3 separate regions of the Homo sapiens genome follow, and regions 1 and 3 are each linked to region 2. Evidence: fine-mapped expression QTL. A gene starts in region 2. Each other region holds a variant in brackets. All regions are shown on one strand. Distances are between the middles of the regions. Region 1 overlaps RIPOR1 (RHO family interacting cell polarization regulator 1). Region 2 holds the start of DPEP2 (dipeptidase 2). Region 3 overlaps SLC12A4 (solute carrier family 12 member 4).

Region 1 (8,176 bases), 460 kb before region 2:
ATTTTTAGCCTCTGTTTACCTCGGTCGGGGCGGCCCCGGGGTGGGGCGGGGCTAGACCCGGGGACTCCCAGAGAGGCAGCTGGCCTGGCACAGTGCTGAGATGGGCAGCCCAGGTGGTGGGATATTCCGCCGCACCCGGGTGTGCCAGTCTTGGTGTGTAGGAAGTATAGCGGGGCTGCAAGATCTGGGGCCATGCGGACAGGTCAGGGCTCCTCCACTCACGGCCATCCTGACCTGGCTGTGCTGCAAGCCCCATAACCTTTGGAACCTTGGATCTGGGTTATTTCCCATCCTGGGAACAGACTATAGGGCTGACATGAGCCCAGAGAGTCCCCTGGTTCTTATCAGCCAGTCCCCCACCAGTTGAGGTGGCCCTTCTGCCTTAGCTCAAGGGGTTCAGCTCTTTCCCTACCTGCTCTCACCCAGCAAGGGCAATCTTGCCCGCCCATCTCCCGAAGCGGTCACTCAGATGGACATTATGATGGTCATTTGTACCAACAGTTAGACATCCTAGTTCCTATGGGACTCGGGGGATGGTGGCAGCAGAGGGCCAACCAGAGAGAGAAAAGTGATGGAACAGTCAGCGGTTTCCAAGTCCAGAATCCCAGGGGATCCCCACCCTGCACCATCCCAGGGAGCAGAGCCCCACTTGCTGATGGTATACGATACCATCAGCCAGTGGGAAGGGAGAGGGAGGATTGCATGTCGGGTAGGGGAGTTGGGGTGGACATAGACTTAAAATCCTCCCCACCAACAAACAGCTCAGGACCTGCTGTTCCTGTGTCTAGGCAGCCCAGCTTCCCCCACTGTTCCCCCCCTTCATCTCCCAGGTGCTACAGGACCCCCAGAGCGCTGTGGTGAGCCAAGCAGATATGCCCCAGGTCTCACAAGGTTCAGTCTGGTGGGAAGACAGGCCCTAAAGGAGAACTGACAACTGGGTTATGTGGTCTCGGGGTTCAGAGGGAGGAAGTCAAAAAGGGGGAACCAACCCAGGGCCTGCTTCCTGGAGGAAGAAGTCATAGGGTAGACTTGAGGAAGGAGAGGGACTTGGGGCTGAGTAGTGGGAAGAAGGAATAGGAGCGATGGGGGCTGCCGGTCAGATTCTGAAGAACCTTGCAGGTATTGAGAGAGGGTCTCAGTTGCTGGAACAGAGAAAGCAGGGGACTGGGAGGAGAGGAGTGGTTGAAAGAATGTGAGGGACAGGACAAATCCTGAAGGGCCTACGTGGGTCATGTTAGAGAGTCTGGGCTTTCTCCCTGGGACAAGAGTGGCTGTGGCTATTTCACATCAGTCTGAATAGAGTGATATTAAAGATTTAGAGTCCTGGGGTCAGACAGCCTGGGTTTGAATCATGGTCTTGACACTTACCACCTGTGTGACTGTTTTGTTTTGTTTTTTGAGACAGAGTCTCGCTCTGTCGCCCAGGCTGGAGTGTAGTGGTGAGATCTTGGCTCACTGCAAGCTCCACCTCCCGGGCTCATGCCATTCTCCCACCTCAGCCTACTGAGTAGCTGGGACTACAGGCGCCAGCCACCACGCCCAGCTAATTTTTTTTTTTTTTGTATATTTAGTAGATATGGGGTTTCACCGTGTTAGCCAGGATGGTCTTGATCTCCTGACCTCATGATCCGCCCTCCTCAGCCTCCCAAAGTGCTGGGATTACAGGCGTGAGCCACCGCACCCGGCCGTGTGACTGTTAAAAATAATAGCAGTTAGTATTTGTTGTGTGTTCACAGTTAGATGTTAGCTAGGCATGGTGGTGCATGCCTGTGGTTCCAGCTACTTAAGAGGCTAAGGCAGTAAGATTGCTTGAGCCCAGGAGTTCAAGGCTGCAGTGAGCTATGAACGCACCACTGCACTGAAACTGATCGCTTGAGCCCAGGAGTTCAAGGCTGCAGTGAGCTATGAACACACCACTGCACTGAGACCTGGGTGACAGCGTGAGACCTCGTCTTAAAAAAAAAAAAATTAGGTATAGTGAGTCCACCTCAACGTCCCTACCCCACATACAATTCTCCCTTCCCCAAACACTTCCTATAGAGGGACATCCTCATGAGAGGAGATCTCATTTCATCCTCCCAGCAGCCTTGGGAAATAGCTGTTGTTATTATTATTATTGTCCTCTTTTTACAGATGGGTGTCTGAAGCCCAAAAGGCTGAATAAGTGTCTTGCCCAAGGTCACACAGCCTCAGGTTTCTCAGGTGCGAAGTGGAGCTAATAGGACTTACCCCATAAGGCTGTTGCCAGGATTAAATGAGATGATGTTTGCTAAGCTCAATGCCTGGCATATAGAATGCTCTCAATAAAGGACAGTTTTTGGCACTGTCAAGTGGCTACAATTTTAAGGTCAGTGTTGTTACTGAATAATGAATGGATGATTGCAGGTTAGAGTGGAGACAGGAGGTCCCTCAGGAAGGTTCTAGCTCATCAGAAGCCCAGCTGTAGGGCTCGAGGGGAGAGTTGGTGATGGCTTGGACCTGAATTCTGGCTATAGGGGTAGAGGTGAGGGGGCAGATTGCAGAGAGATTTAAGAGCCAGACCTGGCAGGAGGGGGTGACCTGGCAGGAGGGGGTGACTGGTCATAGGGGCTAACTGAGACATCCAGGACGACTTCTAGTTTCTGTCTTGAACAACGGGGTACATAGATGGTGGAGTGTCATGGAGAAGTTGAGACTAGGGAGAGTCAGGTGGAAAGTGGTGAATTTGGTTTGGGAACCTCAAACCCAGCATGCACTATGACAGCGCACGCTGCATCTGGGGAGGCAGCAAGCAGGCAGTTGGATACAGAGGCCTGGTGCTCAGAAGAGTGGCTTGGGTGGAGGAGAGATAAGGAAGCTGGCAACATTTAGATGGCATTGAGCTGCGGGATCTGTGCACAGCCCAAGGGCGGGGAGGATAAGGCCCATTCGGGGATGGGAGGAAAGAAGGGGCCTCTGTGGGAAAGTAAGATATGCAGCCAGAGAGGTAGATAGAAAACCAGCGTATTGTCTCTTGAAATTCAGGGGAAGGAAGGGCTTAAAGAAGAGGAGGGGAACCACGAAGTCCAAAGCTTTGCTGAGATCAAGCAGGATAAGGATAAAACATGGGCACTGGGTTCAGCAACAGGGAGGTCACTGGTGACCTTGTCCAGTGGTGGGTACAGAAACTGGACCAGGGTGGGAAGAGGAGCAGGCGGGTGTAGTGAGAAAATGCAGGTAGACATCTCTTCAAGACACTTGGCTTTGAAAGGAGAGGAGAAAGATGGAGTAAGAAATGGGGTAGCTGGACAAAGACAGAAGGTCCACAAGCAGTCTTTTTTTTTTTTTTTTTTCTGAGATGGAGTTTTGCTCTTGTCGCCCAGGCTGGAGTGCAATGGTGCAATCTTGGCTCACTGCAACCTCCACCTCCCGGGTTCAAGCGATTCTCCTGCCTCAGTCTTCTGAGCAATTGGGATTACAGTCATGCGCCACCACGCCCGGCTA[AT/A]TTTTTTTTTTTTTTTTTTTTTTTTAGTAGAGACGGGGTTTCACCAAGTTGGTCAGGCTGGTCTCGAACTCCTTACTTCAGGTGATCCACCTGCCTCGGCCTCCCAAAGTACTAGGATTACAGGCATGAGCTGCTGCACTGGGCTGAGTCATTTCTTTTTTGTAATTTTTTTTTTTTAAGAAAGAATCTTGCTCTATCACCTAGGCTGTAGTGCAGCGCGACCTCAGCTCACTGCCTCCTGGGTTGAGCAATTCTCATGCCTCAGCCTCCCGAGTAGGTGGGACTACAGGCCATGCCACCACACCTGGCTAATTTTTGTATTTTTAATAGAGTCAGGGTTTCACCATGTTGGCCAGGCTGGTCTCAAACTCCTAGCCTCAGTGATCCACCTGCCTCAGCCTCCCAAAGTGCTAGGATTACAGGCGTAAGCCACCGCACCGGCCCAACATTTTGTAATTATTTACAACCAATTTTACATTGAAATATAATAGGCACACAAAAAGTGTGTATGTCCTAAGTGTACAACTCTGTACATTTTCATAAGAGAACACACTCATATAGAATCAGGAAATTTAACCCAGAGCAGGAAATAGGACATTACCAGCACCCTGGAAGACCCTTGTGGCCTCTTCAGTCACAACACCTGGAGGGAGACTCCCAGGCTGACTTCTATCACCATAGATTAGTTTTGCTTGCTTTTGAACTTATTATCAAGGTCATACATTTGTCCTCTCTTGGGTTTGCTCTCAGATCCACCCATATTGTTGCATGTCACTGTATATTTTTCATTCTTTTTGCTATGTGGTAATTCCATTATTCATTGACAGGCATCTGGACAGTTTCTAGGGTTTTCTTTTTTTCTTTTTTTTTTTTTTTTTTTTTTTTTGAGACAGACTCCCGCTCTGTCACCCAGCCTGGAGTGCAGTGGCATGATAGCAGCTCTCTGCAGCCTCTGCGTCCCAGGTTCAAGCGATCCTCCTGCCTCAGCCGCCCAGGTAGCTGGCACTACAGGCGTGCACGACCAAGCCCAGCTAATTTTTGTATTTTTAGCAGAGATGGGGTTTCACCATGTTGGCCAAGCTGGTCTCGAACTCCTGACCTCAAGTGATCCACCCACCTCTGCCTCCCAAAGTGTTGGGATTATAGGCATGAACCACCACACCCAGCCCGTTTTTATTTTTCATGTGGGAGTGACTTGAGCTTGTCTGAGACTTGTGGAGAAAGTCTGAAACACCCCAAAAGGAGAAAGATGACTAGGGTCACACTTGAGGATTTGCCAGGTGGGCAGTGAGGGCCTGGCCAAGGTTGAGGATTGCTCTGTGATTCCAGCCAGGCTGCTGTGCCAAGACCTCTGGCAACTCCTGCCAACCTGTGTGCAGGTGTAGAGAAGTCCAGGAGTTGGATTCCCCAGGGCTGGTTTCTGCCAGCTGGGAGAGAGGTGCGCAGTGCTGAGGATACTTGCAGCAGGCAAGTGATGGGATGGTGGCTGTGGATCCAGGCTGGGGAGGAGGCTGTGCAGGGAAGGTACAGAAGAGAAGGTAGGAGGGAGCTAGCAGAAAAAAAGAAAGCAGAGGCGGACTGTGAGCTCTGCACAGGGTGGTGTCTGTGAAATTCTGGGCTGTATCTCCAGTGACTGGCACATGCTTGGCACAAGGTTGCCACTCAGTGAATAGGTGAATAAATGGGTGAGGGCTCAAGGGGCCAGAGGTCTCAGGTAAAAGGCAGGTGAGGTGGGGGTGATGGAAAGCCTGAGGGTTGCATCAGTGTGGTTGTGGTTTAGGAGGGGGGCATTCCAAAGGCAGGTGATAAGGCTGGGGATGGCTGAAGGGACCAGAGAGGCCAGCGATAGGCAGGCAATCCATGGGAATGCACAGGTCACCAGTGTAGGGTGCAGGGTACCCAGGCTTCGCCTTCAAGGAGGAGGGGAGAATAACATATCTCAAACTGAGGTCCCTGGACCTCTTGCATCTGAATCTGTCGGGGGGAGGGGGAACTTGTGGAAATGCAGACCCCTGGGCCCAACCCAGCCTTTTGGGGAGAAAGTAAGCACAGTATGGGAGAACTGAGCCTCAAGGAGCAAGAGTGTTTATGGGATGGGGGAGCATCCAGCCCCTCCAAGGTCAAGGGAGGGATGGGCATGGTGGCATCTATCCAGGCTAGAGGTGGACATGGGATATTCAAAGAAGAGATAGGCTGGGCGCGGTGGCTCATGCCTGTAATCCCAGCACTTTGGGAGAATGAGGCAGGCTGATCACTTGAGGTCAGGGGTTCAAGACCAGCCTGGCCAACATGGTGAAACCCCGTCTCTATTAAAAATACAAACATTAGCCAGGCATAGTGGCGGGTGTTTGTAATACCAGCTATTTGGGAGCCTGAGGCAGGAGAATCGCTTGAATCTGAGAGGCAGAGGTTGCAGTGAGCCAAGATCGTGCCACTGCACTACAGCTTGGGAGACACAGAAAAAAAAAGAGAGGTACTGGGGATGGGGATCAGGATGGGAACGCAGAACCTGAGAGGCCCATGTGAGCTGGGGGCAGGAAGGATGGGGCATTAGCCTAGGATGCAGCTTGACTAGGGAGGAGGCCCTGGCTGGCAGCCAGACCTGATCCTTTCCCCTGGGTCCTGGGAAGAGGGGAGTGCTCAGGCTGAGCACTCCCTCTGTGGGAGTAGGGATGGGGTGGTGCATGGGGCTGTGGGACTCTGCATCCAGTTCCTTCTCTGCATCTCTCTTGGCGCAGCAGCACACACTATGGGGTGGATCTAGCCTCACACTTTCAGCCTCTCTTCTCAGCCTCAGTCCCCTGGTGATCAGTGCCCTAACTCTCCGCCCTCCATTGGCACAGCCCCTCCAATCAGCACCCTTAGCCCATCTTTCCACTCTTCAGCCCCCTACTATCCACCTTCTCACACTTAGAACCCCAGCTCTCAGCCCTCTGTGTGTTCAGCCTTAGCACTGCTCAACAGCCACTCTTTTTTGGGGGAGACGGAGTCTCGCTCTGTCGCCCAGGCTGGAGTGCAGTGGCGCCACCTCCCGGGTTCAAGCGATTCTCCTGTCTCAGCCTCCTGAGTAGCTGGGATTACAGGCGCGCGTCACCATGTCCGGCTAATTTTTGTATTTTTAGTAGAGACGGGGTTTCACCTTGTTGGTCAGGCTGATCTCGAATTCCTGACCTCGTGATCCGCCCGCCTCGGCCTCCCAAAGTGCTGAGATTACAGGCGTGAGCCACTGTGCCCGGCCTCAATAGCGACTCTTTAAGCCCCCTACTCTAATGTCTGATACTTCCTCCACTTAGCGTCTCCATTCTATCCCTTCATATTCATCCCCATGCTCAAATCCCTTTACGCACATTGCTGACCCCAGCTGAGCAGACCCCTCGCCCCCCGTCGGTCCCCTCCCCGAGGGGAACCCCAGTCACCGGTCCCGCCCCATCCAGGCGGGCTGAGTCAGGCGGCAGGAACTGGGCGGGGGGCGGCGCCGGGAGGAGCCGAAGCCGAGCCAGAGCCGCTGGGAGCGAGCCCGGAGCCCAGCCGGGCGGCTCGAAGTGGCCAGGGCCGGAAGGTCCGCGGGGGGCGAGCGCGGGTCGGGGGCCGTCCCGGACCCACCATGAACACCAAGAAGAGAGGTAGGACCCAGCTCGGGGCTGCGAAAGCTCAGGGACTGGCCCCAGGGGAAGCAGGCCGGGTTTGGGGGCCAGGAGTGTGTGTTTCGCCGAAGCGGGGTGGGGGTCTGCCGAGGAGCTCTCCCCGCCGATGCCGGGGTGGAGGCGCACGTCCGTGACTCAGTTTCCAGGTGGGAGCCTCAGGAAAGAGGAGGGGGCGGGGCCCTTCTCGGCATCGCGCCCAGCTCTGGGAATCCCCCTGCCTGGAGGGCGCCGGGACGCCCGGGCCGGTGGGGGCTGGGGGCAGCAGGTCACGCTGGCAGGCGGGGGGCGGGCGACAAACCCGCACCGGCTGGGCCTGTCGGGCAGCTCCGCAGGGCTCCGAGCGTGGCCCCGCCCCGCCCCGTGACCTCCTTGGGCTCCCGGGGTGGGGGGCCCCGAGCTCCGGGTGCCCTGGGGGGGGAAATCGGGGGCAGGGCTGGGGAGGCTGCCCCGCCCCCGGGTAAACAGGCGCTTCCGCACATTCTTCGCGCGCGCCGCCCCTTTCCTGCCCCTTCCCAGCCGGAGGAGGGTCCCCGCGCGACCCCCCTTCCTGCCCCGCGGCAGGCGGAGCCCGCACCTCGGCAGGAAGTGGGGGCCGAGCCGAGGCCACGCTGAGTCCGAGGCCGAGTCGCCTGCGGCTGTCCTGTCATTAGTGCCCGGGTCGGCGGGACTAGGCGGACCCGGCCGGAGCCCGCTGGGGCAGCTGTGCCTAGCGACAGGAAAGACCTGCGCCAGCCCTGGATCCCGCTGCGTGGGAGAGGGCTTCGGGGATCCGACTGGTACTGGACACCCCCCCGATCACCCGCAGGGAGCCCCGCGCGGACTCACTCTATGATGTCCCTGTCGGTGCGGCCGCAGCGCCGTCTGCTCAGCGCCCGGGTCAATAGGAGCCAGTCCTTCGCAGGCGTCCTCGGCAGCCACGAGCGGGGGCCCAGGTACGCGGCCGCGCAGGGTTGGTGGGGTCAAAGGGCGTCAGATGGGGCTGGGTCTGGGGGTGCGTAGTGAGAGTCTGGGGGACTCCTGCTCTCCTCTTTCTGAGGACAGCCTCTCCTTCAGGAGTTTCCCGGTCTTC
Region 2 (8,176 bases):
GGGCGTGTCCCAGATCTGGGTGGTTTGGGTACCCCAACACAGGCTTCCCTCCTTCTCTCCATCATCCACTGCTGGTCAGCAGCTCCCCACACCCACTGGAATAGTGAGAGGGAGGAGAAGCTCTTGGATTTGCTGGTCTCCAGGTCAAAGATGTGGTTTTGGGGATAAACAGTTTATTCTGAGAGCCCCAAGAGGTAAGGGGCATAAAGAATGAGGAACTGAACCTGATCATTATGTGTTATATGTATTGAAACATCACTATGGGTGGGGCGCAGTGACTCACACCCGTGATCCCAGCACTTTGGGAGGCCGAGGTGGGTGGATCATCTGAGGTCAGGAGTTCGAGACCAGCTTGGCCAACATGGGGAAACCCCATCTCTATTAAAAATACAAACATTAGCCGGGCTTGGTGGTGCGCGCCTGTAGTCCCAAATACCTGGGAGGCTGAGTTGGGAGAATCGTTTCAACCCAGGAGGCAGAGGTTGCAGTGAGCCGAGATTGGGCCACTGAACTTCAGCCTGGATGACAGAGCGAGACCCTGTCTCCCCCCGCCAAACAACAACAACAACAACAACAACAACAACAAAAATCACTATGTACCCCATGAATATGTGCAAATTATTATTATTATTGTTTTTGAGATAAGGTCTTGCTCTGTCACCCAGGCTGGACTGCAGTGGTGCAGTCTCAGCTCACTGCAGCCTTAACCTCTCAGGTTCAATCAATCCTCCCACTTCAGCCTCCCGAGTCTGGGACTACAGGTACTCGCCACCACACTCGGCTATTTTTTTTTTTTTTTTTAGAGACAGGGTCTCACTATATTGCCCAGGCTGGTCAATTATTATTTGTCAGTTTGAAAAATGTAAAAATAAGGAAGGGGTAGGTAGGAATAAATAAATAACAGCTGACAGAGTAGGTGAGGAGAATTCAACTTTTTGAATTTTTTTTCTTTTTTTTTTGAGACAAAGTTTTGCTCCTGTTGCCCAGGCTGGAGGGCAATGATGTGATCTTGGCGGGCAATGATGTGATCTTGGCTCACTGCAACCTCCACCTCCTGGGTTCAAGTGATTCTCCTGCCTCAGCCTCCCAAGTCACTGGAATTACAGGCATGTGCCACCACACCTGGCTAATTTTGTATTTTTTAGTAGAGATGGGGTTTCTCCATTTTGTTCAGGCTGGTCTTGAACTCCTGACCTCAGGTAATCCACCCACCACGGCCTCCCAAAGCGCTGGGATTATAGGTGTGAGCGACCGCACTCGGCCAACTTTTTGCATTTTTTTTTAAGCTTCTCTCCAGAGCCCGAATGTCTGACCTCCTGGGACTTGGGGTACCTGCTAGCTCAGCAGAGGCAGGCTGAGTTGAGCCAGTAAAAGTGAGCACTGTCTCTGTAGGAGATAAGCCAGACAACACAATTTTCCATGATATGCAACTTCAGTCCTCAAATGTGGCCTTGAGGGGACCATACAAAGCGAATCACAGACACACCCACACTTGTAGTTGCAGTGAGCATTATGATAACACCATAGCATTCCAGCCTGGGTGACAGGGCAAGACCCTGTCTGTAAAAAAATAGATAATGATATTATTATTATTATTATTATTATTATTATTATTATTATTATTATTTTCTGAGACAGAGTTTCATTCTTGTTGCCCAGGCTGGAGTGCAATGGTGCAATCTTGGCTCACTGCAATCTCTGCCTCCTGGGTTCAAGTGATTCTCCTGCCTCAGCCTCCCGAGTAGCTGAGATTACGGGCGCATGCCACCACTCCCGGCTAATTTTTGTATTTTTAGTAGAGATGGGGTTTTGCCATGTTGGCCAGGCTGGTCTCGAACTCCTGACCTCAGGTGATCCGCCTGCCTTGACCTCCCAAAGTGCTGGGATTACAGGCATGAGCCACCCCCGACCCTTGGCCAAATTTTTTATTTTTATATTTATTTGTTTATTTATTTTGAGATGGAATCTCGCTCTGTCGCCCAGGCTGGAGTGCAGTGGCACAATCTCGGCTCACTGCAAGCTCCGCCTCCCGGGTTCAGGCCATTCTCCTGCCGCAGCCTCCCGAGTAGCTGGGACTATAGGTGCCCGCCAACACGCCCGGCTAATTTTTTGTATTTTTAGTAGAGACGGGGTTTCACCGTGTTAGCCAGGATGGTCTTGATCTCCCGACCTCGTGATCCACTCACCTTGGCCTCCCAAAGTGCTAGGATTACAGGCATGAGCCACCGCGCCCAGCTCACATTTTTTAAAATGGAAGAAATAGGTATGGCTTTTCTGTAGGGAATGGGCTGGAGGCCAGGAGATCAGGAGGGGTAAGGAATGAAGGGGCCTGTAAGGGGGAGAAGCAGTGGGAACAGGAAGGAGACATTCCTGGGACATGTTTGGAAGTTGAACCCAGGATTTGGAGATGCTTTGAAGCAGGGTTGGTGGGAGACAGTAAGGAGGAATCAGCGGTGACACTTAAGGTCGGCTCTGGAGTCAGGCCCTGAGTTTCCCCGCCTCTGCCTTGTTTCCACTCTGCCCACTGCCAGCATCTAGCTAACTTAGACTGTAGCCTCTGACCCCAAATTATCCCTGTGCTCAGGTCTGTGCCACTGATATTGGCAGCTCCTAATGAGAGGTGACAGCGTGCTGCCAGTCCTCACAGCCCTCGCTCGCTCTCGGGGCCTCCTCTGCCTGGGCTCCCACTTTGGCGGCACTTGAAGAGCTCTTCAGCCCACCGCTGCACTGTAGGAGCCCCTTTCTGGGCTGGCCAAGGCCAGAGCCAGCTCCCTCAGCTTGCAGGGAGGTGTGGAGGGAGAGGCGCGAGTGGGAACCGGGGCTGCGAGCGGCGCTTGCGGGCCAGCTGGAGTTTCGGGTGGGCGTGGGCTTGGCGGGCCCGCACTCGGAGCGGCCCGCGGGCCCTGCTGGCCCCGGGCAATGAGGGGCTTGGCACCCGGGCCAGTGGCTGCGGAGGATGTACTGGGTCCCCCAGCAGTGCCAGCTCACAGGCGCTGCGCTCGACTTCTCACCGGGCCTTAGCTGCCTTCCCGGGGGGGCAGGGCTCGGGACCTGCAGCCCTCCATGCCTGAGCCTCCCACCCCCTCCATGGGCTCCTGTGCGGCCGGAGCCTCCCCGGTGAGCGCCGCCCCCTGCTCCACAGCGCCCAGTCCCATCGACCACCACAGGGCTGAGGAGTGCGGGCGCATGGCGCAGGACTGGCAGGCAGCTCCACCTGCATCCCTGGTGCGGGATCCACTGGGTGAAGCCAGTTGTGCTCCTGAGTCTGGTGGGGACGTGGACAATCTTTACGTCTAGCTCAGGATTGTAAATACACCAGTCGGCACTCAGTATCTAGCTCAAGGTTTGTAAACACACCAATCAGCACCCTGTGTCTAGCTCAGAGTTTGTGAATGCACCAACTGACACTCTGTATCTAGCTGCTCTGGTGGGGCCTTGGAGAACCTTTGTGTCGACACTCTGTATTTAGCTAATCTGGTGGCGACGTGGAGAACCTTTGTGTCTAGCTCAGGGATTGTAAACGCACCAATCAGCACCCTGTCAAAACAGACCACTCGGCTCTACCAATCAGCAGGATGTGGGTGGGGCCAGATAAGAGAATAAAAGCAGGCTGCCTGAGCCCGCAGTGGCTACCTGTTCTGGTCCCCTTCCACACTGTGGAAGCTTTGTTCTTTTGCTCTTTGCAGTAAATCTTGCTACTGTTCACTCTTTGGGTCCATGCTGCTTTTATGAGCTTTAACACTCACCGCGAAGGTCTGCAGCTTCACTCCTGAAGCCAGCGAGACCACAAGCCCACTGGGAGGAACAAACGACTCCAGACGCACTGCCTTAAAAGCTGTAACACTCACCACGAAGGTCTGCAGCTTCACTCCTGAGCCAACAAGACCACAAACCCACCAGAAGGAAGAAACTCCAAACATCCAAACATCAAAAGAAACAAACTCCAGACGCGCTACCTTAAGAGCTGTAACACTCACTGCGAGGGTCTGCAGCTTCATTCTAGAACTCAGTGAGACCAAGAACCCACCAATTCCGGACACACTAAGACAAGATTTCACTAGTGTGTGCTGTTTCCCCTGCAAGGGGGAGGGCACAGAGATGGCTTTGGGTGAGGTTAGGGGGAGGATAGGCCTCCTGGTTGGCTAACACTTGTTTACTTCTGGGGCATGAGTGTTCATGTGAGCCCACGATGCCTGGCCTGTTCCTCTTTTAACAAAGTCTGGTAGGACATGGTGGCTCATGCCTGTAATCCCAGTAATTTGAAGGTCGAGGTGAGAGGATCTCTTGAAGCCGGAGGTTTGAGACCAGTCTAGGCAACATAATGAGAACTCTAAGAAAAAGGAAAAAAAAAAGTGGTGCATGCCTGTGGTTCCAGGTACTTACGAGGCTGAGGTGGGAGGTTCGCCTGAGCCCAGGAGTTTAAGGTTGCAGTGAGAGACGATGGCACCACTGCTCCCTAGCCTGGGCGACAGAGTGAGACCCCATCTCTAACAAAACGAAAACAAGATCCAATGCATCCTCCTGCCTGAAGTTCTTCCGTGGCTTCTCATTGCAGAAATCTACCGAATTTCTTTCTTTGGCTTTCAACTCATGGAGAGTCTGCTCTCACCAGCCTCTCCAGTCTCAGCAAATAGCACAAACTTTCCTGTCCTCCAAAATCTGGCCACCTCAGTGATGCTACGTCCCCCCATAGAGCCTTGGCACAACCTCAGCCTCCAATTGGTAGGGCTGTTGAGGCAAGGCCAGGATAGGAAATCTTGCTACCAGGAAGGAGTAGGTGGGTGAACAGCTTTTCCCTCTACTTCCTCTTCTATGCAGTGTTTGCATAAATCAAGACCTGCAGAGGAGGCAGCAGTAGAAACAGTTTGCTCCAAGGACCAAACTTATTCTGGTGTGCAGCTCACTCGCCCCTACTCATCTCCAGTGTATTTCAAGAGTATGCAGGGAAGGAAAAAGTCAGGCTGAGTTATAGCTGCACAGGCTGCCTCCCATGCTCAGAGCGCAGAGGTGGGGTGCAGCTGGGGCTTACTCAGTATCCAGCAGTGCCCAGATGATGATCATCTGCATCCAAGCCCCTCTGGTCCTGGAGACTCATGCTTCCCTTTGATGTCGCCCTGGATCTGCTCCCATGATGTCTGATACAGACAATTCCCAAGAAACAATAGTCTTCCAAGCCAGAAAGCAGCCTGGCCACTGTAGACAAACATCCTCCAATCACCAAGCTGAAGCCACCCTTCCTGAAACGTCAAATAGCTAACATAACATTTTTCTTCCACAAAAGGAAGTCAATGTTTATGTTTCTAGGAGAAGTGCAATAACCCCAAATGCATCTTTATCTCCTGAATGCATCTAGAACCTTCTGCTCAAGCCTTACCAACCAACCCCTACCCCGCCAGCCTCTCTGTCCAACATTCCTGGGGTGCTTTTTTTTTTTTTTTTTGGAGTGCGAGGGCACGATCTCGGCTCACTGCAACCTCCACCTTCCAGGTTCAAGCGATTCTCCTGCCTCAGCCTCCCAAGTACGTGGGATTACAGGCATGCACCACCAGGCTGGCTAATTTTTGTATTTTTTTTAGTAGAGATGGGGTTTCACCATGTTGATGAGGCTGGATTGTCTCGAACTCCTGACCTCGGGTGATCCACCAGCCTTGGCCTCTGAAAGTGCTGGGATTACAGGCATGAGCCACTGCGCCCGGCCTTTTTTCTTTTCTTTTTTTTTTTTTTTTTGAGACAGGATCTTGCTCTGTTGCCCAGGCTGGAGTGCAGTGGTGCCACTTTGGCTCACTGCAACCTCCGCCTCCCAGGTTCAAGCAATTCTCCAACCTCAGCCTCCCTAGTAGCTGGGGCTACAGGCATGCACCACCATGTCCAGCAAATTTTTGTATTTTTAGTAGAGACGGGATTTCACTACATTGGCCTTGAACTCCCGGCCTCAGGTGATCCACCCGCCTTGGACTCCCAAAGTGCTGGGATTACAGGCCTGAGCCACTGTGCCTGGCCCTGGGTTGCTTTCTGATGGAGACGATTGATGACTTGGGTCCCATGTGTACCATTGAGTTCCTCTTGCAGCTGGGTTCTGCCTGATTTCAGACAGTACAGAGGATCTGGGACAGAAGGCTGCATGCTATCCCATGTCCTTGAGGTAGTGCCATCAGCCGAGGGTGGGGAGGAGGCAGGAGGGCCCTGGGGTGCAGGAGCTGGATCCAGCAAGGCCATTAAAAGTATCTCAGGGGACAAGAGATGGTGGCTCATGCCTGTAATCCTAGCACTTTGGGAGGCCAAGGCATGAGGATTGCTTGAGGCCAGGAGTTCAAGACCAGCCTGGGAAACATGGTGAGACCCCTTCTCTACAAAAAAATTTTTTAAAAAGTAGCTGGTCATGGTGGCACATGTCTGTAGTCTCAGCTACTCAGGAGGCTGAGGTGGGAGAATTGCTTGAGCCCAGAAGTTAGAGGCCACAGTGAGCTATGGTCGCTCCACTGCATTCCAGCCTCTGGGAAAGAGCAAGACCCTGTCTTAAAAATAAAATACCTTTTCCGAAACATTTTTTGTAAGATTAAAAAAAGAGAAAAGAAGGAAGGAAGGAAGGAATAAAGAAAAGAAAAGAAAAAAATTTTAAAAGGTTGGGTATGGTGGCTCACGCCTGTAATCCTAGCACTTTGGGAGACCAAGGCAGGTGAATTGCTTGAGCTCAGGAGTTCGAGAGCAGCCTGGGCAACATGATGAAGCCCCGTCTTTATAAAAAATACAAAAATTAGCCAGGTGTGGCAGTGCACACCTGTAATCCCAGCTGCTTGGGAGGCTGAAGCAGGAGAATCGCTTGAACCCGGGAGGCGGAGGTTGCAGTGAGCTGAGATCGTGCCACTGCACTCCAGCCTGGGCAACAAGAGCGAAACTCTGTCTCAAAAAAAAAAAATTTCCTTTTAGAGACAGGGTCTCACTGTGTTGTTCACTGAAACTTCAAACTCCTGGGCTCAGGCAATCCTCCTGCCTCAGCCTTCCGAGTTGCTGGTGGAATCTGTGAGAAACATGGTGACTCGGTCAATAACCATGCCCCAGGCAGTTGTGGGGGACAGCCTGTATTCCATGGCGGCAACAAAGTTTTCATCTACGGACAGGGCCTCATCATCACCTGCGGCCTTAGCCTGTTCTTCAAAAAGCTGCCACTGCTGCATAGGATCATTTAGATCAGTGTAGGCATTGCTTATCGCTTTCTTTATGACAAATAGCTTAAAGCGCTGGGTCAGACCTTTTGAGTAGTGCCATTTAGCCAAAGGGCTCATTATCTGGGGGTGATCACAGATGAATGTAGAATTGTTGCAAATCACTTCCAGGAACTCCCCCAACAAGCTTGTCAAGGAGCCTGGCTGTGGTCCTAGGTGGAGGGCACGCAATAGCATTTGCACGCAGATATTATCAAGAATTTTGCCAATTGCTTCAGTTTCAAATAGGTTATTTTCTGGCAGCTTCACCCCCAGGGCTTTCTCAAGCTCTTCTATCATGCTGATTCTCCGGAAGGGTAGGGTGAAGTCAATATTGCAGGCTTATCCCTCTGGGACATCTGGGTAGTAGGTGACCTTGTAACTACCTGTATTATGCTTCACCATCCCTGGAACCATCTTCCCCGTGATTTCCGTGAGATTGTGATAGTCTAGGCCATGTAGAACTCAGGGGTGCTGAACTCAGGATTTTACGTCAAATCAATTCCTTCATTCCAGAACTGGAATGCAATTTCATAAACCTGGTCAATGCCACCAACCACTAGCATCTTATGGTAGAGTTCTAGAGTAGTTCATGTGCAGCTTGTTGTGATAAGTGATGAAAGGCTTGGTCATAGCTCCCCTGGGATGACGTTCATTCATGGGAGTTTCAAGCTCTAGGAATCCCAGCTCATCCAAGAAACTTTTTTTTTTTTTTTGAGATGGAGTTTTCTTGTTGCTCAGGCTGGAGTATAGTGGTGCAATCTTGGCTTACTGCAACCTCCACCTCCTGGGTTCAAGTAATTCTGCTTCAGCCTCCTGAGTAGCTAGGATTATAGGCACCTGCCACCACGCCCATCTAATTTTTGTATTTTTAGTAGAGGTGGGGTTTTACCATGTCGTCCAGACTGGTCTCGAACTCCTGACCTCAGGCAATCTGCCTGCCTTGGCCTCCCAAAGTGCTGGGATTACAGGCG
Region 3 (8,176 bases), 42 kb before region 2:
AACTTGGTGAAACCTCATCTCTACTAAAATACAAAAAATTAGCTGGGCGTGGTGGCATGAGCCTGTAATCCCAGCTACTCGGGAGGCTGAGGCAGGAGAATCACTTGAACCCAGGAGGCGGAAATTGCAGTGAGCTGTGATCATGCCACTGCACTCCAGCTTGGGCGACAGAGTGAGACTGCATCTCAAAACAAATAAATAAATAAAAATAAAAAATAAGAGTACCTAAAAGAAGCCAGTCACAAAAGGTCACATATTATATGATTCTGTTTATATGAGATGCCCAGAATAGGCAAATCCCAAGGCAGAAAGCAGATTCCTGGTTGCCAGGGCTGGCGGGGAATGGAGAGTGACTGCTAATGGGGGTTCTTGGGATGATGAAAATGTTCTAGAATTGACTGCGCAACTCTGTGAATATACTATAAAACATTGAATTGTACACTTTCAATGGTATATAAATTGGTATGGGAATTGCATGGTATGTAAATTATATGTTAATAAAGCTGTTACTTAAAAACAAGCAAACAAAAAGGATCCAAACATAGATGCCAACCTGAATCGTTAAATAGCCAAAGTGGAACAGTTTGAGCAAGAAAATAAATAATGATAGTATTGGATTACAACCCAAAGAATAAAGTAAATATCCAGAAGTCCATACAGATATAATGACATGGCTGAATAGATAAACAGGAGAAGGGACAAATCCCACATAATGAATGTAGAAGGGATATGAGAAATGAAAACAAGCCAAAGCCCCCCCAAATCAGAAGATTCAGGTGCAGGGTCCTGCTGCAGGTAGAGGACCTGGAGACAAGAACAGCCAGGCAGTCCCTCCAGGTATCTCCTACCCTCTGGATCCCCAGGGGCGGGCACCTGTCACCCCATGCCTCCCGCAGCTCCTTGCCTCTTCTCCCACTGGTACGGCAGTTCACTGGGGAATGAGAAGCTGAGGCTGACAGAGCTCCCATGGGGCTCGTGGAGGGAGCGCCGACCTCCAGCAGGGTTCTGTGGCTGCTTACCCTGATTGAAGGACAAGGAGAAGGTGGATCTGAAGTGCCCTGGCACAGAGCCCCGGAGGACACAGAGCTGGCCAGAGCTCACACAAGCCCAGAAGGAAGCCTACATCACCACCAAGATCTGTCACTGAGCTGAATACAACAGTTCCTGGAACCCTTGCCATGGCTGCAATGGTGCCCAGGTGGATGGAACATCCAGGGCCGAGGTGAAGGCAGCCAGGCCTCTGCCTTGCCTGGCCCAAACTGGCATGGAGGTGAAAGGAAGACCAGCCTGAGTAAAGGTCTTTGTCTCTCGAAGAGGCTTCCTACTTTATAATACCCAGGCCTTGGCCAGACATGTGGGGATGAACAGCCTGAGCCTTCTGTTTGGAGTCCAAAGGGACTGTTTGGACATGGCCAGAGTTGGCCAGGGCTCAGCCTGACTCACCAGCAAGATCTCGATGGCCCCCAGGATGTACATGGCTGCTGCGAATGTTGTTCCCAGGTAGAAGCACAGGCCCACAGCACCTCCAAATTCTGGCCCCAGTGAACGAGAGATCATGAAATAGGAGCCCCCAGCTACAGCAGAGAAATGAAAGTGTGCACAGGTCAAGGCTGGTTCTTCTTCAAGGGGTCTCCCTGTGACAAGCCTGCACAACCACCCAGAGGGACAGGGACTGCTTTTCCTGTTTGTGGATGAGTAGAGGGGCTGGGAGACCTACCCAGGGCTGCACGGTGGGTAAGCATCTAGGCTGACATTCGATCCTATCCCCATCTGACTCGAATGTCCAGCACGGCCCGTGGAAATAACTGCTTTGCGGGAGCAGCTCTAGTCTGCAGCAGTGGCTGACTGGCCACCATCCTCCAATGCCCTGTGCACAGCCCACAGCCTCCTCTGGCTGGGTGTGTCCTATCTCAGCCCACCTCACCCTCCTGAGGCCTGTGCCTTTGTTAGTCTGACTCCTCCAGACCAGAGGAGGGACTGTCTCATCCAGCCTTTTGGCCCTAAGGCCCCGCACAGTGCCTGCCACCAGGTGAGTGTCCACGGCTCCCTGCCCTGAATCTGTGCTTCTATCAAAGTCTAACACCCTTAAAAGACTCAGAGAGTCATGACCAGGCCCCAGGGTGACAAGCACAGGGGGACAAGAGTCATCTCATGTTGCTGGTTGTATCTGCTGCTGAGACAATGTCTCTGGTGAAAATCTGGGAACAGGGATCAAGAAATTCTTTCAAAGAGTCAATCTTGGCTGGGCGTGGTGGCTCATGCCTGTAAGCCCAGCATTTTGGGAGGCTGGGGTGAGTGGATTGCTTGAGCTCAGGAGTTCCAGACCAGTCTGGGCAACATGGCGAGACCCCGTCTCTACTAAAAAAAGGAAATGATAAAAATATACATTTTTAAAAAAAGGCCGGGTGCAGTGGCCCACATCTGTAATCCCAGCATTTTGGGAGGCTGAGATGGGTGGACTGCCTGAGCTCAGGAGTTCGTGACCAGCCTGGGCAACACGATGAAACCCCGTCTCTACTAAAATACAAAATTAGCTAGGCGTGGCGGTGTGCACCTGTAGTCCCAGCTACTCAGGAGGCTGAGGCAGGAGAATCGTTTGAACCTGGGAGGCAGAGGGTGCAGTGAGCCGAGATCATGCCACTTCACTCTAGCCTGGCGACAGAGTGAGACTCCGTCTCAAAAAAAAAAAAATGTCAGCTGGGCACAGTGGCTCACGCCTGTAATCCCAGCACTTTGGGAGGCTGAGGCAGGCAGATGACTTGAGGTCAGGAGTTTGAGACCAGCCTAGCCAACATGGTGAAACCCCATCTCTACTAAAAATACAAAAATTAGCTGAGCATGGTGGTGCATGTCTGTAATCCCAGCTACTCGGGCGGCTGAGGCAGGAGAATCGCTTGAACCTGGGAGGTGGAGATTGCAGTGAGCTGAGATCGTGCCACTGCACTCCAGCCTGGGCGACACACTCCGTCTCAAAATAAATAAATAAATAAATAAACGAAAAGTCAATCTTTTTCATGCCGTAATCCACCTCCAGGACCCTCTCCTAAGGGAACTGCTGGGGCATGAACAAAGATTCATGTTCAAGGATGTTCATGACAACAATGTATACAATGGTGAAAAAGTGGAACCCACAGGCAGGAGAATAATCACATTAATTAGGTTATGGTGTACCATGGAGAATCCTGTTTTCAAAAAACCATTTTCGGCAGGGTGCAGTGGCTCACACCCGTAATCCCAGCACTTTGAGAGGCAGAGGTGGGTGGATCAGTTAAGGTCAAGAGTTCGAAACCATCCTGGCCAACATAGTGAAACCTCGTCTCTACTAAAAATACAAAAATGTGGTGGTCGCCTGTAATCCCAGCTACTCAGGAGGCTGAGGCATGAGAATCACTTAGAATTGCTTAAACCTGGGAAATGGAGGTTGCAGTGAGCTGAGATCATGCCACTGCACTCCAGCCTGGGTGACAGAGAGAGACTCTGTCTCAAAAAAAACCCAAAAAACCAAAATCAAAAAACTGTTTTCAACACTTGGGAAACATACACACACACATACACACGTAAACATATACACATAAATGCATATGTATATATACACACATATACTTTTGGGAAATACACACAAACACACACACA[CAT/C]ATATATATATATATATACAATTTATGTAAATAGAGTGTGCGTGTGCAATACTTCATAAGACCCTAAGACTTATATATACCAAAAGGCGAACAGTAGTGATTTCAGGATGGTGGGATTATGGGTGCTTTTAATTTTCCATTCTATACCTTTCTGCACTTTTTTATTATTTATTTATTTATTTTGGAGATGGAGTCTTGCTCTGTCACCCAAGCTGGAGTGCAGTGGCATGATCTTGGCTCACTACTGCAACCTCTGCCTCCTGGGTTCAAGCTATTCTCTGCCTCAGCCTCCCAAGTAGCTGGAATTACAAGTGCCCACCACCATGCCTGGCTAATTTTTTTTTTTTTTTTTTGCGACGGAGTCTCGCTCTGTCGCCCAGGCTGGAGTGCAGTGGTGCAATCTCGGCTCACCGCAAGCTCTGCCTGCCAGGTTCACGCCATTCTCCTGCCTCAGCCTCCCGAGTAGCTGGGACTACAGGCGCCCGCCACCACGCCCGGCTAATTTTTTGTATTTCTAGTAGAGATGGGGTTTCACCGTGTTGGCCAGGATGGTCTCGATCTCCTGCCCTTGTGATCCACCCACCTCGGCCTCCCAAAGTGCTGGGATTACAGGCATGAGCCACCGCGCCTGGCCTTTTTTTGCACTTTCAAACCCTCTTACAGTAAACATACATTGCCCTTTTTTTTTCTTTTTTGGTATTGCTTTTATATTAACAAAAACCACAATGGCACTCTCCAACTCTGTCAAGCAGGAAAGCTCCTACGTGGGCACTGTCCTGGCATCAGGGATTGGGAGCCCACTACAGAACTGCTTGGGGCAGGGGTGTGCTATGGGGGTTCCCAGGTAGGTCAAGGCAGATACTGGGTCCTTTTCTCTTCCACCAGGCCTTGGGTGGCGCTCACTGACCTGGAACCACACCGTTGGTGGCGATGGCACTCATGGAGATGGCCGTCAGCAGGGTCTGTGGGAAGGAGGGCCTGGGTGAGCGGCTCAGCTGGGTGGGCTCTGTGGGGGCAGCCGTGGCCCATGCCCAGCCCAACCCTCCCACGCCAGGACACTCACACAACAGCAGCAGATAAGCACGATGAGGAGGGCCTGTAGCACACCTGCTGTGCCCACCATCCAGGTCAGCCGCAGGAAGAGGATAACCCCAAAGATATTCTGCAGGCAGGGCAGGTACACCCCCATGAGGGTGCCCATGCTGGGTGCCTATGCGAACACAAAGGGAGGGGGCGAGTAGAGCATCAGAGGGATGCACCATGGAGAGTCAGCCCTAGTCACTCAGCAGGCCCCCTCCCCCAGTGGGGCCCCAGGGAACACAGAGAGTAGGGGTGACAGCTAGGATGTCTCTATTGACTTTCATATAGGAAGACAGTTGAGTCTGGGAAGGTGTAAAACCTGATTCTTTTTAAAAACCCACATTGAACTTTGGAACCTTAACTCTCTCTCAAGGTACTGCCTCCTTCCCTTCCTCTCTTCTGTTAAACTTCTAGAAAGAGAGGTTTGTCTCAGATCTCCACCTTCTCACCCAGCAGGCCCTAAGTCACCCAAGCCAAAGTCCCAGAAGTCATCCCTGGCCCTCCCTCTCAACCCCCAACTCTAGTCCCGGTAGACACTAACTCCTACCCAGTCTGTCTCCCTGCTGCCCTGAGATCAGCCTGCCTTGTCCCAGCCTTAGTCCCTTGAACCTGGGGCACCTGGGTGGTACCCTCCTGAGCCTGTCAACCTCTCCACACTCCAGCCCACTCTGCTGCTATAGTAGGTCTCTGAAAGCAAGTCTAATCTCATCACCCATGCTGAAAACCCTCTGTTGTCTTGTAATCCAGTGTGCCGTCCAACTCCTTGGCTTGGGCCACCAGATGTGTCCCATCACCTCTCTTATTAGCTCCAGCCCCTGACCACATGGGTCCCTCAGATTCTGCGAACCTGAGAATGTGCTGGACTCTGCCTGGGAGAGTCGGCCCTGCCTCACGGCCTGGCAAACTCTTCAGTGAAACTGTTACCTCTCTCGGGAAGATGTCCGAAGGTTGCCTCAGGTGGAGTTGGTTCTCCCTCTCACATTCCTTTGGCATCTGATACTCCCTATCACAGTGGTCACTACAGGTCATGGTAACAGAATGTGCTTGTATATTTTGTTACTATATTAGGGCAGGCTTGGCTTGTTTATGGTTCTATCACCAGCAGGCCCTGCAGGTACCCAAAAGGTGCTTCTGAACCCAGTGAGTGGTGCTTTGGAAGCCCCTGGGACATCCTGTTGGGAAAATCCTACAGAGAAAGTGCTCAGGCTGTAGGGCAGGTGAGGAAGATCTAATACGCAAATCCAGGCAGGCTTTCTCAACTCAGGGCAGAGTAGGGGCCAGCCAGGAGGCCAGGGCAGAGGCTGAGAGCACAGAGGCTGGCTGACATCTTTTTGAGGCACTGAGCCCCCAAGAGTGCAGCCTCCGAAGTGTGGCCCTGACAGCTTCCACTGGAGCCCCAGCAAAGCCTCCTCACTGATCCAAAGGACTAGATTAGTGAAAATCATACGGGGAGAGGGGACAGGGAAGACCCACGAGACAGTGCCCGTGCTGCCCTGAAGCTAGGGAGAAGAGAACTCCATGGCCATGATCTTGTCTAGCTGAGTCACCTTAGACAAGTTCCTTAATGCCCCTCCTGAAGGGTCCTGGCCTGGGGCAAGACCTGTGAGCGACCTAAAGGACTTCAGAAGAGCCTCAGCAAAAACAAATGGCTCCTCAACCTGTCCTGCGTGGAGCAGTGCAGGGGACGGATCCCCCTCATCTGGGCTTTGTCTGAGCCCTTCTCAGAGGATGCCACCCACAGAATAGCGACAGCAAGAGCTCCCAGTCCCACCCCCATCCCAGGCTGAGTCACTCTAAGAAAAGGACAGTGTGGGAAAGGGCAGGGTGGGCCGGAAATGCTTTCTGCATCCCCAAATAACCTCTGGCAGCCTCAGAAGGTCATCAAGCCGGTGCTGGAGCTGGAGCAGCTGCTGGGGAGAGGCTGCTTTGGGTCTTGGCATGGTCTGGTCGGAGGCCCACCCTTCCTGCTTCAAGCCTTCCTTTTCCGAGGCCCCTGCTCGGGCCTGCCCTGGGTGAGGACCACAGCTCAGCAGCCCCAGATCCCTAACTTCCTACTGACTCCTTAAAGACTTGACCCAGCTCCTCCTTCTTCCATGAAAAAACTACTGCAGCTAAGACACCCAGTCACCCTCTCCCATCCTTACCCTGTGGCCAGGTAAGCTGGATAGCTAAGCTAAGCATCCTCACGGGTTCCCCATTGGGCCAAGGGATGATGGGCTCTCTCTGGCCCAGGCATCCCTCCCACATTCCTGCTGAGATGTGCACTAGCCGTTCTCAGGGGCCTCTTCACTCCCCGCCACCAGCTCCCTGGCTTGGCCTGAAGGGACAAGGATGAGGCTCTGACCTAAGGATCCTGTCACCCACTGTGGGCAGAGCACTCTCAGAGGTTGAGACACCCCTGCAGTGCTGGACAGACATGGCCAGACGCAGTTAGGGTTCTCTGCTATCTAGTCACACCTGGCTGCACAGGGTCAGGGTCAGGTCTGTGCGACCTCAAGGTATCAGCTGCCCTCTCTGAAGTGTGGGCTGGTTTGCCTCCCTGAAGGGCAAGGTGAGAGACGCGCTTCAGTGGGGTCTACCTTCTCTGCTGGCCCCACCCCAGAAAGGCCCAAATCTCACGACCAGGTGTGAGGCTGCAGGCCTGGCTTATCCCAGCCAGGAGCGCCTTCTGCTTGTGCCGACCTCTGAGAATACTACAGCCAGTGCCAGACGTCAGCTCCTCTTAAAACACCACTGCTTCCCAAACCTCAGGGAGTCAGTGTGTGGAGAGGGAGGGTCCCTAGCCTCCAAATGAAAAATGTAGAAAAATCCCCAGCCCTCAGCTACACTGAGCCGCAATGACACAGAGGAGCTAGGCAAAGAGGTAACAGTCACCCCAAAGAGAAGAGGGCTGAAGGGCCAGAGAACTGGATTAGTGACCAAAAAGTGGGACAGGAAAGCCCCACAAGGCAGCATCAGGCTCCGATCACATACACATGTCCCCTGACACTGGCACTCAAGGAACCCAGGGGGTTGTTGGAGGCTTCTGCCAATAGAGCCTTGGGCCAACACTGCGAGCAGCAGGAGGGTTTGTGACTTGCTCTGGATTGCATGACCTCCGAGAGACAACCTGGTTCCTGGCTCCAAGGGCAACACTCTTAGCCAGCCTCACACAATGTCACTGATCTGGCATTTTGCATAGTTACATATCCCACAAATCTGTCTCCCATAAAATCTACGAATCCATCTCCCAGCATTACACATTGATCTTGTCTAGCTCAGTCACCTTAGACAAGTTCCTTAATGTCCCTGACACTATTTCCTTGTCTGAAAAATGGGGATGATAGTAAGCACCTGCCTCTTGGTTTTGTTGTACAGATGACATATGAGAACCCAGGCCTGGTGTGGTACCTCGCACACAGTAAAGGCTGAGTACAGGCAGCTGTGTCTCCTGCTGTCATTCCTGAGGGGCTCCCTGGCCC

What was found. PIP is the estimated chance that this variant, and not a neighbour inherited with it, causes the effect.
Region 1: its variant is fine-mapped to the expression of DPEP2 in whole blood (INTERVAL, PIP above 0.99).
Region 3: its variant is fine-mapped to the expression of DPEP2 in whole blood (INTERVAL, PIP 0.91).

Annotation. Positions count from the first base shown.
Region 1 is chr16:67,530,512-67,538,687 of GRCh38, forward strand. RIPOR1 (RHO family interacting cell polarization regulator 1) reads left to right here. Exons shown (of 22, transcript NM_024519.4): 2 at 7,913-8,039; 3 at 8,161-8,176. The coding sequence starts at 7,936. Among named protein-coding and RNA genes, the nearest start is that of RIPOR1, 5.8 kb to the left of the region's middle. RefSeq lists silencers at 6,783-7,062, 7,283-7,792 and enhancers at 7,573-8,176, 7,943-8,012. The variant AT/A (reference allele first, on the strand shown) is at 3,463.
Region 2 is chr16:67,995,419-68,003,594 of GRCh38, forward strand. DPEP2 (dipeptidase 2) reads right to left here and starts at 4,066. Exons shown (of 11, transcript NM_022355.4): 1 at 3,957-4,066. It also overlaps the pseudogene KARS1P3. RefSeq lists an enhancer at 2,489-3,005.
Region 3 is chr16:67,953,200-67,961,375 of GRCh38, forward strand. SLC12A4 (solute carrier family 12 member 4) reads right to left here. Exons shown (of 24, transcript NM_005072.5): 4 at 4,699-4,845; 5 at 4,543-4,597; 6 at 1,444-1,574. Among named protein-coding and RNA genes, the nearest start is that of SLC12A4, 11 kb to the right of the region's middle. RefSeq lists an enhancer at 5,876-7,075. The variant CAT/C (reference allele first, on the strand shown) is at 3,634.